Linked DNA regions of Homo sapiens. The protein of the gene in region 1 purifies or fractionates together with the protein of each later gene. This does not show direct contact. Each region holds a gene or a part of one and is shown in the gene's direction. Other genes may lie near its edges.

Region 1 (4,223 bases):
ATTTTATTGTGTGTAAATTCTACCTCATTCAATGTAATTTTTAAAATATTACATGAGTTTTCCAAGCAGTGTACAGAGGACCAGTGCTGGCAGCACGTCTCCCAGAGGGGAGGAGCAAGAGAGGCTCTTGGGCTCCCACATTCATCCTGTGGCTGCTGCTCCTTCTCCTGACACCCCCACCACCTGCCAGGGGTCTCCCTGCGCCTTCCACCTGGACACACCCACAGTTACCGTGAGACTCCAGGTCGTTCCCTTCCCTGCTCACACCCCCTCCAGGAGCTTCCTCTTCCTGGAGCAGGCATGCCCAGCCTTGCCTCAGGGCCTTTGCACTGACTATTCCCTGCTGCCTGGGGCTTCTCAACCTTTCCGGTCTCTTAGAGACTTCCCTGACCAGGGTCCAGTAGCACCCACCCTCTCTCTAACTGAGCGACTATAATTCCCTGATCTAAATTGTTGATCACCACTCTGCATCCTCCCACACACCCTAATGGCTGGGCTATGCAGTACCACAGCCACCAGCAGCCACTCGTGGCCACAGGGCACTTGAAATGGGGCTAGTCCACAGTGACGCTTGGTCTAACTGTAAAAAATACACAGGGAACTTCAAGACATTACACTCACACAAAAGAATGTAAACTAGCTCCTTAAGAATAGTCCTGAAGTGTTGAAGTATTTTGGATATATTAGGTTAAAGTAGAAATACCAAAATTACTTTCAGCTGTATCTTTTAACTTTTTCAAATGTGTTTTAAATTGCTCCTGGGTTTCTGTCACATCTCTGTTGGATGGCAGCTCTGCAAGTTCATGTCTACGGCTCTATTGCCCAGACTGCTTGGTGCAGGGGGAAGCTGGTGACAGGTTTGTTTATTGAATAATGAGGAGTTATGAAACGAGAACCCAGTGAACTTTACCCAAAGGTTAATTACTTTATGTTTGGCAAAGAAGTTCCCCAGAAGAGGGCATGGACAAGGTCATCCCGGAGCTTCTGAAACAGCTCCCTGCCCCAGGAATTCCCAGACCATGACCACGTGCTCCTGGATGCCCCTGACATCTGAAGACTTTAGAAGGCCAAGCCCTGTATTTCTCCCTTTCCTGTGGACATAGGTGGTCACCAGGTTTCACAGCCCAGGGAGCGGTGTCACCTCTCTGGAATCCAGAGTGAGCCAAGCTTTAGAGCACTGAGGAAGAGGGGCAGGGCTGTGGGGAGGTTGCGGTCAGGACAGGAGTGGGGAGGAGGATGAGGAGGAGGCATGGGAGGAGCGAAGGGAACTTAGGGAGGGAGGGAGGTGGTTGGGGGTGGAAAGGGAGATAGAGACAGAAGAGGAGGGGTAGAAAGAGGAGGAGGAGCCAGGGGCGGGGCCAGGGAGCAGGTGGGGTTGGGGGACACCCAAGTAGGATAAATGCACAGCTAGCTTCTGGCCTGGGCTTCCTGCCTCAGCCTTCTGCTGCTTTGCTCTCTGGGAGATCCAGCTCCTTGCTCTGTGTCCCAGTAGAACATGATGTGGCCCATGCACACCCCACTGCTGCTGCTGACTGCCTTGATGGTGGCCGTGGCCGGGAGTGCCTCGGCCCAATCTAGGACCTTGGCAGGTGGCATCCATGCCACAGACCTCAATGACAAGAGTGTGCAGTGTGCCCTGGACTTTGCCATCAGCGAGTACAACAAGGTCATTAATAAGGATGAGTACTACAGCCGCCCTCTGCAGGTGATGGCTGCCTACCAGCAGGTGCGTGCTACCACCACCCTGGGGGTCCTGAGTCCCAGCTGGGTTTTTTGCCTCACCCCCCAGAGCACTCCCAGCAAATCAACATTATCTAAACCGCAGACTCATTCAGCTTTCTCTGACTGTCTGCTGATGGTCTTCATGCCCTAGGACACTCCTTGGCCGTGAGTGCATGAGTTCAGCCCTGTCCTGTCCCCTCGGCCTCTTTTAACCTGCAGCAGCCACTGTGTCTGTACCATGACTGTGGCATTTCCCAGGGTCCAGCAGGTGTGGATGGAGACTGTGCTGACTCTGGGTGGGCTTGATGCTGCTCAGGATGAGATCCAGGCCACGAGGTTCATCTTCCTCCCTGAGTCCTCTCCACAGGGGCCACACGGGAACCTGACTCCTTGTCCTGGATAGCCCCGCTTCCCTCCCAAGTCACGCCCCTGGGCACAGCCCGTTATGGCTAGTGGCCTTCACTCTCAGGCTGGCTGACCACCCCCTACAGCCCAGGACAGCTGAGTTCCTGCTGGGGTAGAGCATGCCTGACCCTGCCTCTGCCAGCTAACGCAGAGTTAGACCTCAGCAAAATGAGGACAGCAATCACCCAGCAGAGTGAAGGAGGTGGTTGGGTCCAGAGGGAGGAAGCTTCAGCAGGGCTACCGAGCCCAGCTTGACCTACGTCCCATGGCAGAGCAGCAGTGACACAGCGACCACAGGGCTATATGGCCTGCCAGCCTTTAGAGCTCCTCCACCTTCTCTTGGAAAGTCAGAGGAGTCCAGACCAGCCCTGTTTCTCCTCCTGCAGCCCTCTCCCTGCACAGGAGGGGCATTCCCTGGTGCTGTGGTCCCTGCTGGCCTGCACTCCCTCTTAAGTGTGTCACTCACTGGGAGTGAAGCACAGAATGATGTAGATCGTTGGGCCCTGGAGCCTATTTTACAGAGCAGCAGACTGACACCGGAGGGATCACAGGACTTCCATGTGGTTCTACAGGACTTGTGTGTGGTTCCACAGGGCAAGGTCTAGCACCCTGGTCCCAGGGTCCCTCATCCCATGCTTCTCCACAGTTCTGACAAGTCATGTTTTGGGGCGGCACTGTGCAGGGAAAGCATTCAGTTCTCTTCTGAAGTTGCAACCCTAAGACATGCAGGTGTGTGACTCACTTTAGAAATATTGCCTTGAAAATCACACCTGGAATGGAGGCATGCAGGAGGCAATGTTTATTGGCCTAAAACATCAATGTATGTGAGCATCTCATCTCCTACTGAGAAATGAGGAAAAATACCTCTGGGTTAAATGGCAGGAATGAGATGCTCTGTGGACTGAATGCCAGGAGCTGGAAGTTAGCTGAAATTTCATCATCAGGTGGCAGCCTTCCTAGGATGGGACCAGTGTCCCTGCCCCCTGAGCACAGGTAGCAGAATTCAGTTAATCCTTTGCTGTGGGAAAGAGCATTCACTTGGTGCTTAGACCCTGCCCTGCAAGCCTGGTGCCAGGACTGTTTCTTTGTCCCACCCTGGCTGGTTCCCCAGAGCTGTGCCTTCTGTTCCTGAATCCAGTGAAGGGGGTTTTAGGCCCTGGCTTCCATCTGCCCTGCCCCTGCTTCTCTTTCTACTGGGCTGCATGAGACAGCTTGCTTGAGATACCCAGAGAAAACAAGTTACTAGGAAGGACTGGGACACACTACCACTGCCAGCCAGCAGGAGAAGGTGGCTTGTGTGCCTTTTGGGTGACAGTGTGGGCATGAAGCCCCAGGCAAGCCCAGTGACTCAGTCACAGTGAAGTGCCTGCGTGTGCATGAAACTGACAGCATGCTGCCCCTGCTTCCTGCTCTTCCACGCGTGTAGATCGTGGGTGGGGTGAACTACTACTTCAATGTGAAGTTCGGTCGAACCACATGCACCAAGTCCCAGCCCAACTTGGACAACTGTCCCTTCAATGACCAGCCAAAACTGAAAGAGGTATGTGCCTGATGTGGGTCAGGGGCATCAAGTACCGCAGAGCAGTGTGTGCATGTGTGTGTGTGTATGTGTGTGTGCACGCATCTGTACTCCTGCACATGCTTTGGAGGGCATGTGTGCATGTGTGCAGATATTTGTGGGGCCACGTATGCAAGGATGTATTCATGTGCATGGGAGGATGCATGTGTGTTTGGCACACATGTGCAGATGTGTATTGTGAAGTCAATGAATGTGTTTGTGCATATGGAGTTTTGTGTATGCATGAATGAATGTGTGGGATGGTGTACACATGTGGCTATGCATGTAGAAAGATGCATATGTGTGCATACATGAGGAAGATGCACAGGAGTGTGTGTGTGCATGTGTGTGGATGTGTGAAGGAGTATGTGGGTTCATGCATATATTCGTTTGGGTGAGGGTTGCTGTGAGTTAATATAGATGCCTATGTGTGTGCAGATGGAGTGGTGTGGATAGGGGTGATGAATTTGTTTTGCTAGGAAGACTTTAGCTTGGTAATGGTTACTGGGAGGTCAACTCTGCCTGCTTTGGGGTGTTG
Region 2 (3,500 bases), on another chromosome or scaffold:
GCTGGCCTTTTTTGGTGGAGAGGAATGGGACACTGGTGAGGGCCCTGAACTGGGAATCGGAAACCCTGAATCCTTCTTAGTTTCTGCCTCTCCCTTGTCTCATCAGAATAATGGGAGAATCATTTTCTCCTCAGATTCTGCCCTTCAGAGAAGTAACTCCACACCTTCTCAGCCCTCCGTTCCATTCTGCTTTCCTAACTCGCTTCCCTGTCCTCTGCCTGAGGAGGGGTCAGATAGGGAGGCTTTGGGAATCCACATCTCAATGCTGTCCCCAGAGTCAGGAATGCAGCTTGCTGAGGGATGTCGGGGGTTACAGCCTCGACTGGAGGGTGAGGGCCCCCAGCAGCACCCCTTGGTGGCCGGTGTCTGTTCCAGGTGGACAGGTTCCTGTATCACATGCGGCTCTCCGATGACACCCTTTTGGACATCATGAGGCGGTTCCGGGCTGAGATGGAGAAGGGCCTGGCAAAGGACACCAACCCCACGGCTGCAGTGAAGATGTTGCCCACCTTCGTCAGGGCCATTCCCGATGGTTCCGGTGAGTGCAGTTGTCCGCTGCCAGGGTCCCTGGCTCCTCTTGGCTGATGGGTGTCTAAAGTACCTAAGGTTTGCCCCTGTACCTTGGCTTCTCTCTCTAGCCCTCTCTCTGCTGTCCCACCCTCCCTGCCCCTCTCTGCTTCAGTCCTGCTGAATCCCTCTTGCAGTTCTGCAGTTCTGCAGCCCCAGGCACCGTGGCTTCTCTGCCCATCGTGGCCTCACACATTTGCTCCCTCTCCTCCTGGAGCATCTCCATGTTCTTCCCTGGTGAGTATCAACGTGGCTTTTCCGTCTCAGCGTAGTGGTCCCTGCCTCCATCTAGGAAGTATCCCTGTGCTGGGCTGGGTGCTTGTCAGGGCACTTGTCACTTTGCTGTGTCCCCACTCTGAGTCTCCACCAAATTAACCACTCACTCCGTGGGTCCAAGGTCTTACCACAGTGTTCCCAGCACCTAGTGTAGCACTGGGAATGAGTAATGGGAGCAAGAATGATGTAGTGGAAATCACATTCAATGATAATTCAACAAACCTGGGTCTGAGGCCCAGCTCTGTCACTCTCAGTGACCTGAGGCAAGTGTTTAGCCTCAGTTTGCCCAGCTGTAGAATGAGAAATGGCCTATGTATCTGTTTCCTATGGCTGCTGTGATGTATTACTACAATCACAGTGGCTGAAAACAATCGAATATATTCTCTGACAGTTCTGGTGGACGGAAGTTTGCAGTGGGTCTCACTGGGCCAAAATTCAGGTGTCGGCAGGGCTGCGTTCCTTCTGGAAGCTTGAGGGGAGAATCTGTTTCCTTAACTTTTCCAGTTTCGAGAGGCCACCTGCATCCTTGAGGCATGCCCCTTTCTGTTCTCAAAGCCAGCAGTGTAGCCTCTTCAGGTCCCTCTCTGACCTGACCTTCTGCCTCCTTTCAACATTTAAAGATCCTGTGATCACGTTAGTCATGCTTAGATAATCCAGGATAATCTCCCAACTTCAAGGTCAGCTGATGAGCAATTTTGATCCCATCTGCAACCTTAATTCCCCTTTGCCTTGCACCCTCAGATATTCACAGGATCTGGGGATTAGGATGTGAGCATCTTTGTTGGGGGTGGGGGACATTATTTTGCCTACAATGGCCTAGAAATCTGTAGATAGGATCTATGAGGTCCCATCCAACTCTTCCATTCTCAGCCTCTGAATGAAGCTGTAAGAGGGAAAAGGGCTGCTACTGGCCTGGAGTGGTGGCTCACGCCTGTAATCCCAGAACTTTGGGAGGCCGAGGGGGGCAGATCACTTGAGGTCAGATGCTCGAGACCAGCCTGGCCAACATGGTGAAACTCCACCTCTACTAAAAATACAACAATTAGCCAGGTGTGATGGCATGCACCTGTAATCCCAGCTACTCGGGAGGCTGAGGCAGGAGAATCACTTGAACCTGCAAGGCAGAGGTTGCAGTGAGCCGAGATTGCGCCACTGCACTCCAGCCTGGGTGACAGAGCGAGACGCCATCAAAAAAGAAAGAAAGAAAGGAAGAAGAAAGAAAGAAAGAAAGAGAGAGAAAGAAGAAAGAAAGGAAAGAAAGAAGAAAGAGAAAGAAAGAAAGAGAAAGAAGAAAGAAAGAAAGCAAAGAAAAAGAAAGAAAGAAAGAGAGAAAGCTGCCATTTACTGAGCAACCACTGTGGTCATGGGGTGCTGGGGACTCGCTGAGCCACATATTTCCTGTGACAACCCTGTGGTGTGGCTGTTCAGACAGAACCACCAAGGACCAAGGGGTTTCTCCCATGTCAGGGTCCCAGTGCCCAAACCGAGCTCGTGAAAGAGCACTGGGGCTCTCGCAGGAGCAGGGTCTGAGGTTTGGGAGCTCTCAGGGGGCTTTGATGGGATCAGTCGTGTTCTGGACCTCTCTGGAGCAATGCCTGGATCAAGGTAGCTTGGCTCTGCTGGTTGAGAGGCCCTGGGACACTGCACTGGGAAAGGCCCTGTGCCCTCACTTGTGGGTAGGTGCTTGGGATGGACAGTGCCCTGTCCTGGAAGGACGTTGAGCTTCGGAGAGAGACAGCCCTACTTTGAAATCTTGGCTCTGTCCTTGCCACAGCTTGACGAGAGTACTGGGACGTGTCCTTGACAGGGCATCTGGGGCCCCTGGGAGGAAGCAGCTGAGTCATGTGGGGAGCACCAGGGCTAAGTCCGCCTGGCTTCCTGGACTGCAGCCCCTCCTCCTGATACAGACAAGGTGTGTCCCCAGAAGCAAGGGAAGGTGGCCTTTGATGGTCTGGAGGCTCTGGGACAGGCGGTGTCCTCCTGGCCCTGGCTGCTTCTGAAGGTTCAGAAGTGAAACTAACTAAGTCATAGAAACTCTCTCCTCCTTAGCCGGGAAGACGCCCAGCTCCCCATCCCCGTCTCCGCAGAGCCTCTCACCACACAAAGCATCTCACCAGTGATTCTGTTGTGCCGAGGTCCCTGGGCCCAGAGTCCCTAATAAGCCAGGTGTTCTTGGTAAATCCCGGCACCATACATGATTGTCAGGATTTAATGAGATCATGTGGATGGCGTGCTTTAACATCTCTAAAATCTTGTCCCAAGTCCTCCTAGCTCTTGTGAGCTGGTGGTATAATTTCATGATTACCGACAAAAAACAAGCAAAACTCTCCTAATTCCTTATGGTGTCCGTTTCAGAAATGTATGCAGCTTCCAGAGAAGTCCTGAGTTTGCCTACTCCCATCAGGACCTATCTGCGAGGGAGTCACCTGTTTGAGCCTTAGTTACCACCCAGCCTTTTGGTCAGGGGGCTGCAGTGGTCTGTTCTGACAGGATCAAGTGCCTTAAAAGTGCTGTGTTAATACTGGAGCCTTCTCTGCCAGTCATGGAAGGGGCATGGGAAGCATGAGGGTGACTGTGATTCTTTGGCTTGACCCCTGCTGGCTCTGTTCCAGGCCTTAGCCTCCAGTCAGCCTCCAAGGCCAAATAGGCCTTGGGGG
Region 3 (3,500 bases), on another chromosome or scaffold:
GGCGCGATCTTGGCTTACCCAATCTCCGCTTGCTGGGTTCAAGCAATTCTCCTGGCTTAGCCTCCCGAATAGCTGGGATTACAGGTGTGTGCCACCACGCCTGGCTAATTTTTGTATTTTTAGTAGAGATGGGGTTTTACCATATTGGCCAGGCTGGTCTCAAACTCCTGACCCCAGGTGATCCGCCTGCCTCGGCCTCCCAAAGTGCTGGGATTACAGGTGTGAGCTACCGTGCCCGGCTTTAAATTTTTAGTTAGATTAAATATAACCTAAGTTGTTTTTTTTTTTTTTTGAAAATTATTAATTTGGGGGGAAAATAGGACTAATTTGAGGACATGTAATAATTTTTCTGTGCTCTCGTCCTTAGAGGTTGTATATGAGAGCTTAAATGATCACTTTAAAATACGAAGAATTGTGGTAATGTCATGTTTAATCTTTACATTTTAAAAACCTTGGCTTAGTTTTTTTTTAAATATTATAAAAACTCTAATAATTAAATAGAATGTAAAGGAAATGTATACATATGAATCAAGAGGATTCTTGGATTTTTAAGTAACTTTTTTTATTAGAAATGAAAATATTTTCCCTTTTGACGTTACATAGAAACCTGTGCTGAATTGTCTAGTCAATTAACGTGTATTTATTGAGACTTAAACACATGCCCATAATGTGCCTGGTACTGTTTAAGAAATAAATTAAAAATATAAGATACACAGAGATCCTTTTCTTACTGTTTATTGTCCAGTATTTATTTTTAATTTGCAGTGCACCCAAAAGAACTTAAAATGTCTTATAAGAAACACAAGGGTAAGAAATAAACTAGAGTCAAGGGTGAAGCTAATAGAAAAATGTATGCTGTCAAGCTGGGTACAGTGGCTCAGGCCTATAATCCCAGCACTTGGGGAGGCTGAGGCGGGAGGATTGCTTGAGGCCAGGAGTTTGAAACTAGCCTGGGAAATATAGCAAGACCTGTCTCTACAAAAACATAAAGCATAAAAAAAAATGAGCTGAGCCTAGTGGCATGTGCCTGTAGTGTTAGTTACTCTGGAGGCTGAAGCAGGAGATTCACCTGAGCCCAGGAATTTCAGGATACAGTGAGCTATGATCGTGCCACCACTCTCCACCCGGAGTGACAATGAGACCCTGTCTCAAAAACAAACAAAATGTATAAGCTATAAACTTTTGTTGTTGTTGTTGTTGTTGTTTTTGAGACGGAGTCTTGCTCTGTCGCCCAGGCTGGAGTACAATGGCGTGATCTCAGCTAACTGCAACCCCTGCTGCCCGGGTTCAAGTGATTCTCCTGCCTCAGCCTCCTGAGTAGCTGGGATTACAGGCGCCCGCCACCATGCCGGCTAATTTTTGTGTTTTTAGTAGAGTCGGGGTTTCACCAGGTTGGGCAGGCTGATCTTGAACTCCTGACCTCAGGTGATCCACCTGCCTTTGCCTCCCAAAGTGCTGGGATTACAGGCGTGAGCCACCATGCCCGGCCAACTTTGTTTTAATTATCTGAGCAGCTAGTGCAAAAAGAGAAACCTGGGTGGACGTAATTATTTATAGATTAAAAACAAGGCAACTGCTTAGGAGATGCACAAATCTGATAATTAGATGAGTTTTTAAAAAAATCCTGATGAGATCCCCTCATACAGAAGACATTGCTGTAATGAAGTGTCTTCAGTCTGTGTCTTCAGATACATACTTGTTTTAAAAAATGTTCCTTGATAGAAAGCAAAAGTATATTACTGAAGTATAATTTGATAAAAGCAATTTGAATGGGAGATCTCACACAAAATAATCTACAAACTTGATTCTCTCTTGTTCCTGGAGTGTACTTCCCACCGTCCTTTTAATCTTTAGATCTAATCTCAAGCAGAAATTTCTCTACAAACCTTTTCCACATCTTCCTAAGTCAAAGCCCGCATTTATAGATTCTCATAGAACCATGTATAGGTTTGCGGCACTTGTCCTGTTAAGTGTGAATCTAATCAAGGGCAAATGGTGATAAAGGCCTCACATTGCTGCTCTGTTTTACAACTCTAGTAATTTTTACCTGACAAAAATACATCAAGGCAGGCATGTAAAGACTTCTAGACTGCTACCTTGTCCTTCAAACAAAAATTTCTTTTTTTTTTTAATTAAAAAAAAATTTTTTTAAGTCTCACTTTGTTGGCCGGGCTAGAGTGCAGTGTTGCGATCTCCGCTCCCTGCAGCCTCCACCTCCCAGATTCAAGTGAGTCTCCTGCCTCAACCTCCCAGATAGCTGGGATGACAGGCATGAGCCACCGTGCCTGGCCTAAAACAAAAATTTCATAGTTTTCTAGTTTAAGAAGGGAATTGAGCATGCTGTTAGCATTCTCTCTCTCTCAATTAAAATGACTATTAAGAAATTTTTAAAAAATAGTAAGTCCATTACAATGAAGAGAAAAAGAGAGGTTGGAAGGGCCAACAGAGTAGAAAGGGACAGAGAAGTTGGAAGCTGATTGATGGATGAACTAGAGTAGATGAATCTGGAGCCCAGAATCCAGAGCTTTCAAAGCCGCAGCGGAGCTGGAGCGCCTTTCCTGGCAGAACCCCAACAAAGTTCTTGGCTAGCAGTTGGAAGTAAGGAGGGTGGAAATGAGAAGGTAGTGCTAAAACATGGAAATTAATTTAAAGCCTGTGTATAGACCATCCCCTTAGCCAGCTGTCCATGACAATGGACAGGCTTTTTGAGATAAATTGAACAAACTGCCTGAGAAGAACTGGGACTGCTGGGTATGGCTTTGGGACCCCAGGGTTAAGCTCTCTTCCAATGGCTTTGAGGGGTCCCTGCCCTAGGGCTGGCTTCCCACTCTAATGCCAGGTGCCAGTCAGCAAGCCTCCCACATACACAGAGCTCCCAGCCAACATTTCTGTTTTGGAGATAGTATTATCTTGAAAACAGACCAGCTGCTTAGAATAGTGAAGTTGGAGACGGAGTTTAATCATCTGACATATAAGGAAAAGCAGAACGTGAATGACAGAGACCAAGAGAAACACAACAGCGGATCCTCAAGGAAACAGACGAGAACTTTTAAAACTTTGGTTAATGTCATCTTGGAGACTTCAGAAAGTTTTTGCGTTCATAAAACCAGCACATGGTGCTGTGGAGAAAAAAGGAACGATCAAGAAAGAAGCAAGCATTCTTAGAAATTTAAATGTGATTGCTGTAGAGAAAAATAGGAAGGCACCAGAAGATAATGGCAAGGAAATCTTCCAAAATGCAGAGGGAAATAATGATAAAAAATATGAGACAACATACAGATAAATAGCTAATATTTACTGAGGCAATTTTTTTTGTCAGGCGTTATTCAAAATGCTTTGTGTTTTAATTTATGTTAATCCTCACAACCACATTATGAAGTAGGTGCTCTTATTCTCATCTTTTTAGAGAGGCAGGCATTGATAATAAGTCACATGGCTAGCAAGTGACAAAACAAGCTCAAACCCAAGCAGTCTATTTCCTCTTGGCCTTACTGTATGGC
Region 4 (3,500 bases), on another chromosome or scaffold:
CCATTCTACCACGTAAAATAGGCAAAATGAGGGTGTTGAAATGAATGTGACTTGGAGACAGGTGGGGAGGGGCAGTGTATGCTGGGCCTAGATATGTGGTTGGAGTGTGCGTGGCTGATCTACGGGTAGAGGCTGGTGATCCGGAAGTGCCCGGCAGAGGCTGAGACTTTCCAGCCTGCTTTATAGGAAGCAGAACCACAGTTGATCTCCCTCCTTATACCCCAAGCCCGGACTATATCCTCAGGCCTGGGACACAGGCTGAGCAGGGCAACTGGGCCAGAGAATTTGAAAATGAAAGGTCAGAGCACTTAGGAGCTGAGAGCCAGCATGTTGGGGTAGGCTGTTGTGGGTAGAACCCCAGGCTGGTGACCTGCGGACCTGGTTCAAATCCCGGCTCTGCTGTTGGCTTGCTGTGTGAGTTAGGCAGGTTCCATCTCCTCTCTGGGCCTCAGTTTTCCTATTTGTAGATTAAGAATAATGGCCTTCCCTTGCCTCCGACTAACTCTAAAGGCTGTTGGGAGGATGAAATGAGACACAGCTTGTGAAAGAATTAGGTGTGTTCTGAAGCTCTCTACAAAGGTATTATCATTAGTACCACTAGGATTATGCAGACACGTTTTGGGGGCCCACTAGCTGGAAGACTGCTCTTGGCACTCTGGTTTTTTTGCTTGGCTTCAGTACCTCATCTGTTCTGGAGTCCTGAGAGGTGAGTGCAGAGACCCCTGTCTGGTTATCTATTTGTGGACCACTGTCTTATATCTGGCGCAATCGCTGAAACTGATTTTCCAGCTTCAGAGATGCAGAAGGGTCTCTTGAAGCATTATTCTCAGGAACATCACTCTTCATAATTATTGGTTACCACCTTCCTGCCATCCTTTCATGGCATCTCCTCAGCAACCCTGTTCACAACACGCGCAACACAGCGTGTGCCACTCGCAACATGCTGACAGGTAAGGACCTTGATAAATATTGAGGCTGGAAAACATTGGCTGGGGATCTTGTGGAGCCGAGGCCCTGTCACTGGCATTGAGCCACTCACATACTCTGTAATGGAGACCCCAGAAATCACATAGGGTCCCTGCCCTCAGGAAGCTTTCAATGCTGTGGCCAAAAAATGACATGCCACGGAGTGGTTACCAGCAGTACTGGATCATGTGAGCTCAGTGCCTGAGTTGTAAGGAAGCGGCGGAGGCTCGTGGAACAGAAGGGAAAGCTGAGGTTGGAGAAATGGTCCCTCCCCATAGCATAATGGCAAGGGGCTCGAACTTTAGGGTCACACACTTACCGGAGGAACAACTCATTGCTCATCTTTCAACCATTGTTTCCTTATCTGGGAAACAAAATGATAATGTATTATCATATTGATAAAATGTTATCTGTGGCAGCTGGGTGCGGTGGCTCACACCTGTAATCCAGCACTTTGGGAGGCTGAGGTGGGCGTATTGCTTGAGCCCAGGAGTTTGAGACAAGCCTGGGCAACATGGTGAGCCCTCATCGCTACAAAAAATAAAAAAATTAGCCAGGTCTGTTGGTATACGTCTGTAGTCACAGCTACTCCAGAGGCTGAGGTGGGAGATTGCTTGAACGTGAGAGGTGGAGGTTGCAGCGAGCTGAGATCGTACCACTGCACTCCAGCCTGGGTGACAGAGTGAGACCCTGTCTCTTAAAAGAAAAATAAATAAATAGGCCGACCGCAGTGGCTCACACCTGTAATCCCAGCACTTTGGGAGGCCGAGGCAGGTGGATCACCTGAGGTCAGGAGTTCGAGACCAGCCTGGCCAACATGGCAAAACCCTGTCTCTACTAAAAATACAAAAATTAGCCTGGCATGGTGGCGGGCACCTGTAATCCCAGCTACTTGGTTGGCTGAGGCAGGAGAATTGCCTGAACCCAGGAGGCAGAGGCTGCAGTGAGCCGAGATTGTGCCATTGCACTCCAGCTTGGGCAACAAGAGCAAAATTCCATCTCAAAAAAAAAAAGAAAGAAAAATAAATAAATAAATAAATAAGTTATCTGTGACTTTGATGCGAACTGCTTGGAAAGCTGGACACACTGGGTCTTTTTTTTTTTTTTTTTTTTTTTGAGACGGAATCTTGCTCTGTCACCCAGGCAGGAGTGCAGTGGTGCAATCTCGGCTCACTGCAACCTCTGCCTCCTAGGTTCAAGCGATTCTCCTGCTTCAGCCTCCTAAGTAGCTGGGATTACAGGCATCCGCCACCATGCCTGGCTAATTTTTGTATTTTTAATAGAGATGGAGTTTCACCATGTTGGCCAGGCTGGGCTCGAACTCCTGACCTCAGGTGATCCACCTGCCTTGGCCTCCCAAAGTGCTGGGATTACAGGCGTAGGCCACTGTGCCCAGCCTGACACACTGCGTCTTGAACTAATGAACTACCTGTGTACATATCTGTCTGTTCAGATCCATAGTCTCTGGCAAATTGCATAGCCATAGCCCCTTCCTTCCAGCTGCCTTTTCTGTAAGTTGTAGATGGTAACTCCTGCCTTGTTGGGTGTTGAGAGAATTCAATTAATTAACACATATAAAATACTTAACAGAGTTCTTTTTTTTTTTTTTTTTTTGAGATGGAATCTTGCTCTGTTGCCAGGCTGGAGTACAGTGGTGCAATCTTGGCTCACTGGAACCTCCACCTCCCGGGTTCAAGCAATTCTCCTGTCTCAGCCTCCTGAGTAGCTGGGACTATAGGCGCCCGCCACCACGCCCTGCTAATTTTTGTATTTTTAGTAGAGACAGGGTTTCACCATGTTGGCCAGGATGGTCTCAATCTCTTCACCTCGTGATCCGCCCGCCTTGGCCTCCCAAAGTGCTGGGATTAGAGGCGTGAGCCTCCACGCCCAGCCAGAATTCTTGGTATATACTTGGTATTCAGTATGGGTAGGATCATTAATACATTTGGTTACAAGAATAGAACCCAACCAGTCTGATTACTAGCCGAATGCAGCCTCCTCAAGGCCTCTCTGTCTCCAGCATCATGAGCAGCCACCTAGCTGTGAGGCACACTCCCCAATTATTGTGTGTCTGCATCTTTCTGACATAACCCAACTCATAGATTTAATCTCTGCAGACTTTTCAGAGCCAGGTGGCGTCTGGTTTTCACCTGTTTCCCGACCACCTGGAGATCCCCACACTTGCTGTGACTCCCCTCACACCCCCAGTCTCTGGCCCTTGATCTGCTGCCTCCTGGAAAGCGTCTAGCCTCTGTAAATAGGGCATTTGTTTGGGTTTTCCCCCCAGCTCCTAGGTTAATATTTCACAGGGTGAGTACTGCTCCAAGGCTCAGAGCTTCTGGCTCCCCCAACCTCTCTGTCCTCTGGGTATCAGGACACTGGTGGGATCCCATGCTCCCACCTCCAGACTTCAGTTTCTCTTTCCCTCCCATTGTTTGGATGGATGGACTGAAGACCAAATATTTGGTGAGAAGCGGGGGTCTGCTTTAGGTTTGCATCCCACTCTCATCAGTTTTGTGATCTCAGGCAAGCTT
Region 5 (3,500 bases), on another chromosome or scaffold:
ATGCCTGGGCCCCTCCAGCCCTACCTCTAGTCCTGCCACTTTACAACTGAGCACCTCCCGCTGCTGCCTGCTGAACCCTTCAGAGTCCTTGCCACAGGCCCTATTTACTTTTTCCTGAGAAGGTATGTGTGATGCCAAAGAGAGAAAAGCAGCATTTGCTAATTTGGGTAAAATGTTTCTTTGGGAAGGGCAAATTGATGTACAGTTGTCCCTCAGTATCTGTTGGGACTGGTTCCAGGACCCCGTGGATACCGAAACCCTCAGATGCTCAAGTCCCTTATATCAAATGGTGTAGAATTTACATGTAACCTAAACACTTCCTCCTGTACACTTTAAATCATCTCTAGATCCCTTACACTACCTAATACAAACTAAATGCTATATAAATAATTGTTATACTGTATTTTTTAAATTGCTATTATTTTTTATTGTTGTGCTATTATTTTTATTGGGCTCCCTCCTCCCCCTCCCACCCCAGTAATTTCAATCCAAGGTTGGTGGAATCCATGGATGCAGAAACAATGGATACTGAGGGCCGGCTGACTAGACCTATTTTTATTGTAATTACTCATTCTCTTCTACCTCATTAAGCTTGGTTCTTTCAAGCATGAATACCTGGTTGAATCTGCATAACCTCTTATTATCGACCTACCTTTGTTCACACACAAATGATTGCCACTTAGAGCTCTCCTACCGGGCTCCTTTTGTAAAATAAATTTTATCTTCTCCAGATAGAAAGAAATGTGATACCTTGCGGATTTTGCGGTTTCCTTGTTTTGCTGGATTGCAAGTCCTTTAGACATAAACAAATGTTCTGTACCCCGACATCGGTGGTACCCAGCTCTCAGTTGAGAAAGAGATGTAATGTGAATGCCACTCTTGGCCCCAGGCACTCCTCACTTGCCCCCACTGGGGACTGGTTCATACCCTCCTCTCCTGGCCTCAGTTTCCATACCTCTTAGTGAGGCCTTTGCGTTATACTTCAGAAATATTGTCAGTATGACTTTGAAGATGAAAGTTTGCCCCCAAAATCACTCTCTGTTATCATTGTGAAACCAGAGATGGAATGGAAAAATGGGTTTCTGAGACATTTTAAATTATTCCTTGCTTGTCTTTAGAGGCAAAATTCAGATAAGAAAGCTTATCAATTATACTTTTGTTTCTACTCAAAAACTCATGACTGCTCACTCAAAGACTCCTTGTTCTTATCTTAAAACATTGTTTACAGTGTCCCAGATGAATGGCAACAAATCCTGGGGTTTGGTGTTTGGATGGTACATTTCCCTGGGGAAAGAAATAACAGTTTGAGATGGAACCGGGTTGGGGTGGGAGAATACTTCTCATTCTGAGGAATATTTAATTTTGCCAAGATGAGCATTTCTAGTTCTTAGTCTGTTGACGAAAAGAGCTATGGTTTGTTTCTGGAACTTTTGATAAAAAATAAAGAAATTTGTAGCCTGGGGAGTTTGGTTTTAAAATGCAAACACAGGAGTTATGAGTTGAGACTTGGACAGGGTGTCATTTTCTTTTTAAAGGGCAGCAATATGATTCTTTGATTTGTCTTTGTTATCTTGACTTTTAATCCGGATTCCTGGGCAGTTGTTCAGCCCCAGGACATCTCCATGGGCAGGTGGCCTGGCCTTGGCACACTACCCAGTAAATCTCTGCCTGAGAGGACGCTTTAGCTGGGAGGCCAGGCTGATTTTTAAAGGCAGAATTGGACTATTTACTCTAAAACAGTAATGCACACTGTTTAGAAAGAAACATTCCTATTCTGGGAGGAAGGAGGAGACACACAGAAGTATCATTTATTTCTAGTCTTTTCTGGTAGAAGCTATGAAGCTGAGTTTACTCTCTGGAAATTTGTAGTTTATTTTCTAGAAAATTGCATTTTATCACTGCAAAAAGGATTTTATTTCCAAATGAGTAGGCTTTTGAGCAAGAGTTTTGGAGTCACAGAGATGGGGTTAAGAAAGTGATAATGTGCAATGGCGATTCTCAAGTTCAAGGAGAAAAAATAACATGCTTTTATTGGGATACTTTGCTTGTCTATAAAAGAAAGTAGCTATTGGCATTTATGTAGAAGTCAGCAGTTTCTTGGCACCAAATAAATAATTTTGTGCTGAATAAAGGGAGAGTTATCCATAGTATTTATTACTAACCAAAGAAATGCAGGGAGAATTGTAATTCATTAGGTTTTGATGGCCAGGAAAGCCAAGCTGTGTTATTAGGGTCATGACAATCACAGACATTACGGATGGCTGACCTGTAGTATGGATAGAGGGCAGAGGGTAGAGTGTGAAATATATCACAGAATTATGTCAAATAATCTGGATAGTTACTACTGCTTAAAATCTAAGTGCACAGCTAGAAAAGTGGGTAGTGACGCACTACAGTCTTGCTGAACACTGGGTAAGAAAATCATAGCAAACGTTGAGTCTGTTTTGGAAATGTTCTAAAACCAGACTATTAACACAGTGAGCCATTTTAAATGTGGCTTGCTACGTGTTTGGAGAGAAACACATACTCTTTTATTAGGAACATGAAACAAACTCTTTGAGCCGCAGTATCACTGCGAGTGAGTTTAATTGCTGGGATTAATAAATCACAGCTGCAAACGTTAAATTCTTGGCAGGATTCTTTATTCAGCTGTTTTCCCCTTGCCCCATTACATTCCAGATTTGTGGTCTGCATTATGTCTGGAGCCAGAAGTAAGCTTGCTCTTTTCCTCTGCGGCTGTTACGTGGTTGCCCTGGGAGCCCACACCGGGGAGGAGAGCGTGGCTGACCATCACGAGGCTGAATATTATGTGGCTGCCGTGTATGAGCATCCATCCATCCTGAGTCTGAACCCTCTGGCTCTCATCAGCCGCCAAGAGGCCTTGGAGCTCATGAACCAGAACCTTGACATCTATGAACAGCAAGTGATGACTGCAGCCCAAAAGGCAAGAATGCTCCTCGGAACCTGAGTTTCTCTCATACAGAGCAGATTGCTCTTTACCCCTTGATCAGTGGTTGGGTAATCCCAGGCTTCCTACCACCCTCTGAAAAAGCATCCAGGTAGTTAACCTGAGTTGAGTTAGTCAGTTGAATTAGGAGCCTTACCCCTCAGAGAGTGGTCCGTGGACCGGCATCCCCTGGGAGCTTGTTAGAAATACAAAATCTTGGGCGGCACCCCAGACCTACTGAATCAGAATGTGCATTGCAGCAGGATCCCCAGGTGATGCTTTCACATGGCAAGTATGAGAAGCCCAGGACTAGATCCCCAGTTCTCAAGTGTGGTTGTACATAAGAATCACGAGGTAAGTGGTAAACACTATGGCTGCCCGGGTCCTGGAGAGTCCGTTGTAATTGGTGTGGAAGGGGTGTGGACTGGCACTGGGATTGTTTTAAGGCTCCCCAGTGCAGTCTAATGTGCAGAAAAATTTGAAGATGACTGGGCGTGATGACCTCTCTGAGTCATTCGAAGCTTCACTGAAGTAGTAAGCATCTGCAAGAATG
Region 6 (3,500 bases), on another chromosome or scaffold:
ATGGCCAGCTTCCTCCTGGCCTTTTGTTCTTGGGCACAGGGCTGATCTTTTCTTATAATTCCTTTTGTTTTTCTTTTCTTTTTTTTTTGAGATGCAGTTTCACTCTGTCGCCCAGGCTGGAGTGCAAAGGTGTGATCTCGGCTCACTGCAACCTCTGCCTCCCAGGTTCAAGCAATTCTCCTGCCTCAGCCTCTGGAGTAGCTGGGATTACAGGCACCCACCACCACACCCATCTATTTTTTATATTTTTAGTAGAGACGGGGTTTTACCATGTTGGCCAAGCTGGTCTCAAACTCCTGACCTCAGGTGATCTACCCTCCTTGGCCTCCAAAGTGCTGGGATAACAGGTGTAAGCCACTGTGCCCAGCTAATTCCTTTTGATTTTCTTGGCATCCCCCTCAATGTGAGGTTACATTACTGCTGAGTTAGCATCCAACAAAGAGGTGTTACTGATGTCACTTAGTGGCAGAAACGCCTGCATTTGTTTACCCTTAGGAAGCCCTTTCTCACTAGGGAGCATTTGTGCTAGATGAGCCGCTGTAAGAGGCTGGAAACATTATAAGCAGCAGCTGGGAGCCCCTCTGCTCAAGGAGACTCTAGGTGCCCAGGGACAGCGGGGAGCCCAGGACATCAAGCTCAACATCAAATCTTGGCCCCACTTCCCTCCTGGTTCCAGGTGTGGAGCCTGAAGGAAGGCAGAGGAAACGAACTCTTACAAGGGTTTGCTCTGGGCCACTGGGCTGTGTGTGCCACACAATCACCTCCCTGAATTTGGCATGGTTCCAGGCTTTGGGGCTGGAGTGGGTTCGAATCCTAGCTCTGCCACTTCCTAGCTGGATGACCTTGGGCATATGACTTAGTCTCTCTGTGCCTTGGTTTTTCCATCTGCAAAATGGGAACACTACTAGGCTCACATGTCAGGGTAGTGGTAAGGATTACATGAGAGATACCAGGTGTGGTGGCTCATGCCTGTAATACCAGCACTTTGGGAGGCGGAGGCGGGCAGAACAATTAAGCCCAGGAGTTTGAGACCAGCCTGGGCAACATGGTGAAACCCCATCTCTACTAGAAATACAAAGAATTAGCTGGGTGTGGTGGCACACACCTGTAATCCCAGCTACTTGGGAGGCTGAGGCAGGAGATTCATTTGAACCCAGGAGGCAGAGGTTGCTATGAGCCGAGATCTTACCACTGCACTCCAGCCTGGGCGACAGAGTGAGACTTGGCCTCAAAACAAAAACAAAAATAAAATAAATGAGAGAGTAAGTGCTCAGCTGTTAATACTTTTATACTGATCATAGTAATGCTGTGGTGTGTGTATTTGTTAGGACAAGTGAGGCTAAGCTGTGTTGACAAAGAGATGCAGGCCGGGTGCAGTGGCTCACGCCTGTAATCCCAGCACTTTGGGAGGCCGAGGTGGGCAGATCACCTGAGGTCAGGAGTTCAAGACTAGCTTGGCCAACATGGCGAAACCCCGTCTCTACTAAAAAATTACAAAAATTAGCCTGGTGTGGTGGCAGGTGCCTGTAATCTCAGCTACTCAGGAGGCTGAGGCAGGAAGAATTGCTTGAATCTGGGAGCAGAAGTTGCAGTGAGCCGAGATTGCACCATTGCACTCCAGCCTGGGCGACAGAGTGAGACTTAGTCTCAAAAAAAAAAAGATGCAAAAAAGTGGTGGCTTAAATATGATAGGACTCTGTTTCTCTCTCATAGGACAGTGCAAGTGGAGGAGGTCCAGGGCTGATGGGCAGCTCTGCCATTCAATCTGTGGTTTCCATCTCTGACTCTAAGCTGGATACTGTGGTTTCCAGAAGGTTGGGGGAAGGAATACCAGGGAAAGGCATCTGTAATTGTTTTAACTGCCAGACCTGGATGTGGCATGTTATTTCTGCTTGCTGCCATTGATGAGAACTGAGTCACATAGCTCTCCTAGCTGCGAGGGAGGCTGGAAATGCAGTCTTCAGCTGAACGGTCGTGCACCCATCTAGACCTCTGTTACTTTAGGAGAAAACTAGAATGCATTGGCGAGAAATATACCAGGGTGAGTTTTATGATCTCCATTTCGCAACCGAGGAAACTTGCCCAGAATCTCGCAGTGAATAAATAGTAGAGGTGGGATTTGAACTCTGATCTTCCAGTTCCCAAACTCTGTACCAGGTTGCCCCATTGTGCTTAGGCCTCCCAGTTCTCCATCACCAAGGGGGCTTACAGGAATCAACAGGGGAATGAATTCCTCTTGGACAAGAAGTGGGGTTTCAGAGTTGGTAGTGTCCTGGCTGCAGTGCACAGCACAGATGGCAGGTCTGGGCCTTGGGATTTCTGTGGTGTCTAAGGGAATGGTGGATTTGGCCTCTCAACTTTCTTTACATCCATTCTCTCCAGCAAGAGCTCCTAACTGTTCTGGAAACAAGAATGTTTCCTCCACAATCCCATCACTCTAACAAGCCAATGCTGTGTGTGTCTGCCTGCCTCCTTTCCTCCCTCCTTCCCTTTCCTTCCTTCCTTCCTTTCCTTCCTTCCTCCCCTTCCTCCCTCCCTCCCTCCCTCCCTCCCTTCCTTCTTTCCTTCCTTCCTTTCTCCCTTCTGTCCTCCCTCCCTTCCTCTTTAAGTGTTTCCTCATCTTCTGGGTCCTGTACACAGGCATTCACAAGACCACATGGTTGCAATCATAGCAGAGGCAATTGTATGTTCTGCTTTGTCTATTTTAACTTACACCCTAAGCATTCTTCCACGTTGCTACATGATAATCATAGTTATGTTTGCAGCTGCCTGCTGTCATTCTGGTCTTGCTGCCCCCAGGTCTACCTTCCACTCAGCCCCTGCAGGGAAGTGTCTTAAGATGTGAGTCTGATCCTGTGACTTCTCTGCTTAAAGCCATCACTGGCCTCCAGGACAAAGGATAGACTTCTGGCCAGGTGTGGTGGCTCATGCCTGTAATCCCAGCACTTTGGGAGGCCGAGGTGGGCGGATCACTCGAGGCGAGGAGTTCGAGACCAGCCTGGCTAACATGGTGAAACCCCGTCTCTACAAAAAATACAAAAATTAATGGGGCATGTTGGCGCATGCCTGTAATCCCAGCTACTCGGGAGGCTGAGGCATGAGAATCACTTGAACCCAGGAGACGGAGGTTGCAGTGAGCTCAGATCTTGCCACGGCACTCCAGCTTGGACAACAGAGTGAGATTCTATCTTTAAAAAAAAACAAAACAGGATATGCTTCTGGGCCTGACACCCAAGGCATCCAGACGCTGGCCCTGGTGACCCCCTTACCTCCTCTCCCCCATGCAGCCAGGGTCTTGGCAGGAAGCAGAATTCAGCCCAGATGATTCCAATAAAGAGACTTTAATGGAGGAATGACTTCTAGAGAGTAGGGTGAGGGGACCCAACAAGGAAGTGGGGGACGCAGAGGCCAGCAGCAGCAGCAGACACTCTATGGCAGAGGCACTGGGGTGGCAAGGGAGCTGGGAAGCAATGCCCCGTCTTCCTCCTCTTCCCTCTCTG
Region 7 (2,623 bases), on another chromosome or scaffold:
CAGAGGTCGCATGTCAGGGCAGGTCACTTAACTTGTGGGCCACAGAGACCCTGACCTTCCTGTGGGAAGGCTTCATGGAGGAATTGCCATAAAGCTGGGGCACGCACGAATGGCAGTAGTGTCACCAGAGCAGGGCATTCTGAACAAGGGAAGCTTGAGACATGAAGACAGTGGTCACGGGGAGAGGCTGGGGGTAGAGGGTAGAGGTAGGCAAGAGATTTGTCTGAGTGGCATGTCAAATGTGTTAAACTCAATGAGAAGCTACTGCTTTCCAAGGCTGGAGTGTTGGAAGCTTACTTAGCAGGCACCCATGTGAATTTGGCTCCTGTGCAGGTGTATCTGTTGCATAAAAATAGCTATCATTTGTTGCACACCTGCCATGTGCTTGGTATTTTAAATATATTGCTTCTAACCTATATAACAACCCTAGGAAGTAGAAAATGGGCTACTAATTTTACAGAAAAATAAACTCAGAAATTAAAGGGCTTGCCCATGTTGATAGAGCCATTACTTCTTACAAATGAAATTTTGTCTCCGATGTCTCTGCTCCTTTTCAGTCCATCTATTTGTGGGTAAGTGGAGGAAGATATAAAGCATATGCATCTGTCTATTAGGCAGAGCCTGTAAGGGAAATTATGGGCATCTAGGATTTGGAGTTGGACAGTTAGGGTGATATCAAGATTACCTTCAAGCAAAGCAGTGGCTGGGATTTGATGCAACAGGGACGTGATAAAACATGCTCCTAACCGGCAGCAGCTCATTTCGGAAGACTGAGCCTGAGTTAAAGGCCAGAGCAACATAACAGAGTTCTCCAAACAGCACACAGTGAGAGAAGGCCAAAGCTAAAGAGGACATCATCGGATTTAGCTGCTTCACTAAAGTGTTTTGATGTAGAAAATGACCTTGGTGCTTTAGTTATCCCTGATGTCAAGACCTTTACTCTATTTTGCCCAAATTTCTCAGTTAGATAACAGCAAAGAGAGAGAGCCAGAAGACCTGGGTGTGCATCCTAGCTGTACCAATCACTGACCATGGGATCTTAGATTCAGACTCTGAGAACCTCCATTTCCTTCTCCATAAAAATGGGCAGATATGTACTGTACTCTGTTGGGGGAAAACTCCAACTCAATGAGATAAAGTAGGTAAAAACTATAAACCCAGTGCATATGTTACTTAGTGGTTAAAAACATTTGGGACTTTAGGAGACAGACCAAAACTGGTTTTGAACCAGTCGGCAGAAATGCGCTGCCTTTTTTCCTCCTCTGCTTCCCAGCTATGTGACTGTAGCTATTGCTGTTAATGCTCCATCCAGAGCTCATTTACCAGGGAAGTGCTCTCAACCCCAGCTGCCACAAAGATTGTCTTCTGTACTATTTTCTGAAGGATTTCTCTTAGTTGGCAGGAGTTTTCTTACCTGAAGATGCCTGAGAAATGTTGTCCACCCCACTCCCCTGCTTTCCTAGGGTTAGGGCATGACTAATGATTGACTGACCCATGTGGGATGGGGCATGGGGGTAGTAGGGTAACAGTCCACCCTCATTGCCTCCAGGCAGGACAACCTCTGGTGCAACTCATGCTCAGAGCTCCTCGTGAGATCAGGCTGAGGCTAGACTTCTCCTGAAACTGTACTTTTACTTATTTCTTCCGAAACTTCATCCTTTTCCCACATTACCTTACTCATTTCTTCTGCTACCCTATTCTCAGTAAATGTGTTTCCCAAGAAAACAGGAATCCCCCCTCAGACTTTGCTTCTAGACCATCCACTCTAAAGTCTTAACCTTGCATGCATGTTTTCTTCTCTCTGTATTTTACATGTATAACGTGATCAACCCACGGAGTTATTAGAATTCTTCCAATTAAATGAGATATAGCAGAGAATGAGTCTATTTTATTGGCTAGCAAATAGCAAAGTGTTAAATTCAATAATGGCTGAAATTGTTACCAAGTAGTAGGCTCTTTTATTAGCTTATCGGACTACCAAAATAGTATAATGCATCAATATCAAACTTAAATTTCAACTTCATAAAACAATTCTGGGCCCAACAAATATGAAGGTATTGCTCCATCTTATGTAGCAACATCTTGTATTTCTATTGTTTGATAAATATTCCACTTAGAACTAATACATGGATGTCTCTTTCTTTTGATTGCAACCCTCTGGCACTTAACACAGTGCCTGGTACATGGTAAGTAAGGAGTATTAATACTTGTTTGTGGATTGAAGGGTAACTCTAGACTAGTTGTCAGTTTTACGCGAAAGCCCCTTCTACCACATCGCAGCCTCATGATCTGGCCCGCCTCCTGGAAGTAGCCTTTCTGGCCCAGACACTGGTAGGTACTTTAAAATAAGCTGTTTTATGTAATCTTCACAAACCTCAGGGGAAATAATCAATTCAAGCTTCCTGTGTTTGTTTACCATTAGATCCACATCAAATAGTAACCATACTTGACATAGGAGCTATAAATATTTATTAATCGAACAGATCACCCTAATACCCAAGCTCTTTTCACTATGCCTTACTATATGACCTCTTCTTGAATATTGAACCAATGAATAGTTCTCCAAGGTAACCCATTATATCTCCAAACTGGCTATTGAAATTCATACTTACTGTACCTCGAC

Evidence for each region.
Region 2: the proteins of CST5 (region 1) and HKDC1 purify together in Homo sapiens (affinity purification with mass spectrometry; one large-scale study listed by BioGRID and IntAct). This does not show direct contact.
Region 3: the proteins of CST5 (region 1) and BTBD1 purify together in Homo sapiens (affinity purification with mass spectrometry; one large-scale study listed by BioGRID and IntAct). This does not show direct contact.
Region 4: the proteins of CST5 (region 1) and ZER1 purify together in Homo sapiens (affinity purification with mass spectrometry; one large-scale study listed by BioGRID and IntAct). This does not show direct contact.
Region 5: the proteins of CST5 (region 1) and BTD purify together in Homo sapiens (affinity purification with mass spectrometry; one large-scale study listed by BioGRID and IntAct). This does not show direct contact.
Region 6: the proteins of CST5 (region 1) and HAPLN3 purify together in Homo sapiens (co-immunoprecipitation; one large-scale study listed by IntAct). This does not show direct contact.
Region 7: the proteins of CST5 (region 1) and HS3ST1 purify together in Homo sapiens (affinity purification with mass spectrometry; one large-scale study listed by BioGRID and IntAct). This does not show direct contact.

Annotation. Positions count from the first base shown.
Region 1 is NC_000020.11:23,876,949-23,881,171, reverse strand, and holds the start of CST5 (cystatin-D precursor), read left to right. Parts: upstream 1-1,423; 5' UTR 1,424-1,495; coding exon 1,496-1,726; intron 1,727-3,553; coding exon 3,554-3,667; intron 3,668-4,223.
Region 2 is NC_000010.11:69,226,832-69,230,331, forward strand, and holds part of HKDC1 (hexokinase HKDC1), read left to right. Parts: intron 1-375; coding exon 376-538; intron 539-3,500. UniProt on the Homo sapiens protein: Catalyzes the phosphorylation of hexose to hexose 6-phosphate, although at very low level compared to other hexokinases. Has low glucose phosphorylating activity compared to other hexokinases. Involved in glucose homeostasis and hepatic lipid accumulation.
Region 3 is NC_000015.10:83,057,253-83,060,752, reverse strand, and holds part of BTBD1 (BTB/POZ domain-containing protein 1), read left to right. Parts: intron 1-3,500.
Region 4 is NC_000009.12:128,765,428-128,768,927, reverse strand, and holds part of ZER1 (protein zer-1 homolog), read left to right. Parts: intron 1-3,500. UniProt on the Homo sapiens protein: Serves as substrate adapter subunit in the E3 ubiquitin ligase complex ZYG11B-CUL2-Elongin BC. Acts to target substrates bearing N-terminal degrons for proteasomal degradation with the first four residues of substrates being the key recognition elements.
Region 5 is NC_000003.12:15,632,745-15,636,244, forward strand, and holds part of BTD (biotinidase isoform 1 precursor), read left to right. Parts: exon of another isoform or gene 1-122; intron 123-2,679; 5' UTR 2,680-2,695; coding exon 2,696-2,944; intron 2,945-3,500. UniProt on the Homo sapiens protein: Catalytic release of biotin from biocytin, the product of biotin-dependent carboxylases degradation.
Region 6 is NC_000015.10:88,889,045-88,892,544, reverse strand, and holds part of HAPLN3 (hyaluronan and proteoglycan link protein 3 isoform 2 precursor), read left to right. Parts: intron 1-3,164; exon of another isoform or gene 3,165-3,500. UniProt on the Homo sapiens protein: May function in hyaluronic acid binding.
Region 7 is NC_000004.12:11,392,650-11,395,272, reverse strand, and holds the end of HS3ST1 (heparan sulfate glucosamine 3-O-sulfotransferase 1 precursor), read left to right. Parts: 3' UTR 1-2,123; downstream 2,124-2,623. UniProt on the Homo sapiens protein: Sulfotransferase that utilizes 3'-phospho-5'-adenylyl sulfate (PAPS) to catalyze the transfer of a sulfo group to position 3 of glucosamine residues in heparan. Catalyzes the rate limiting step in the biosynthesis of heparan sulfate (HSact).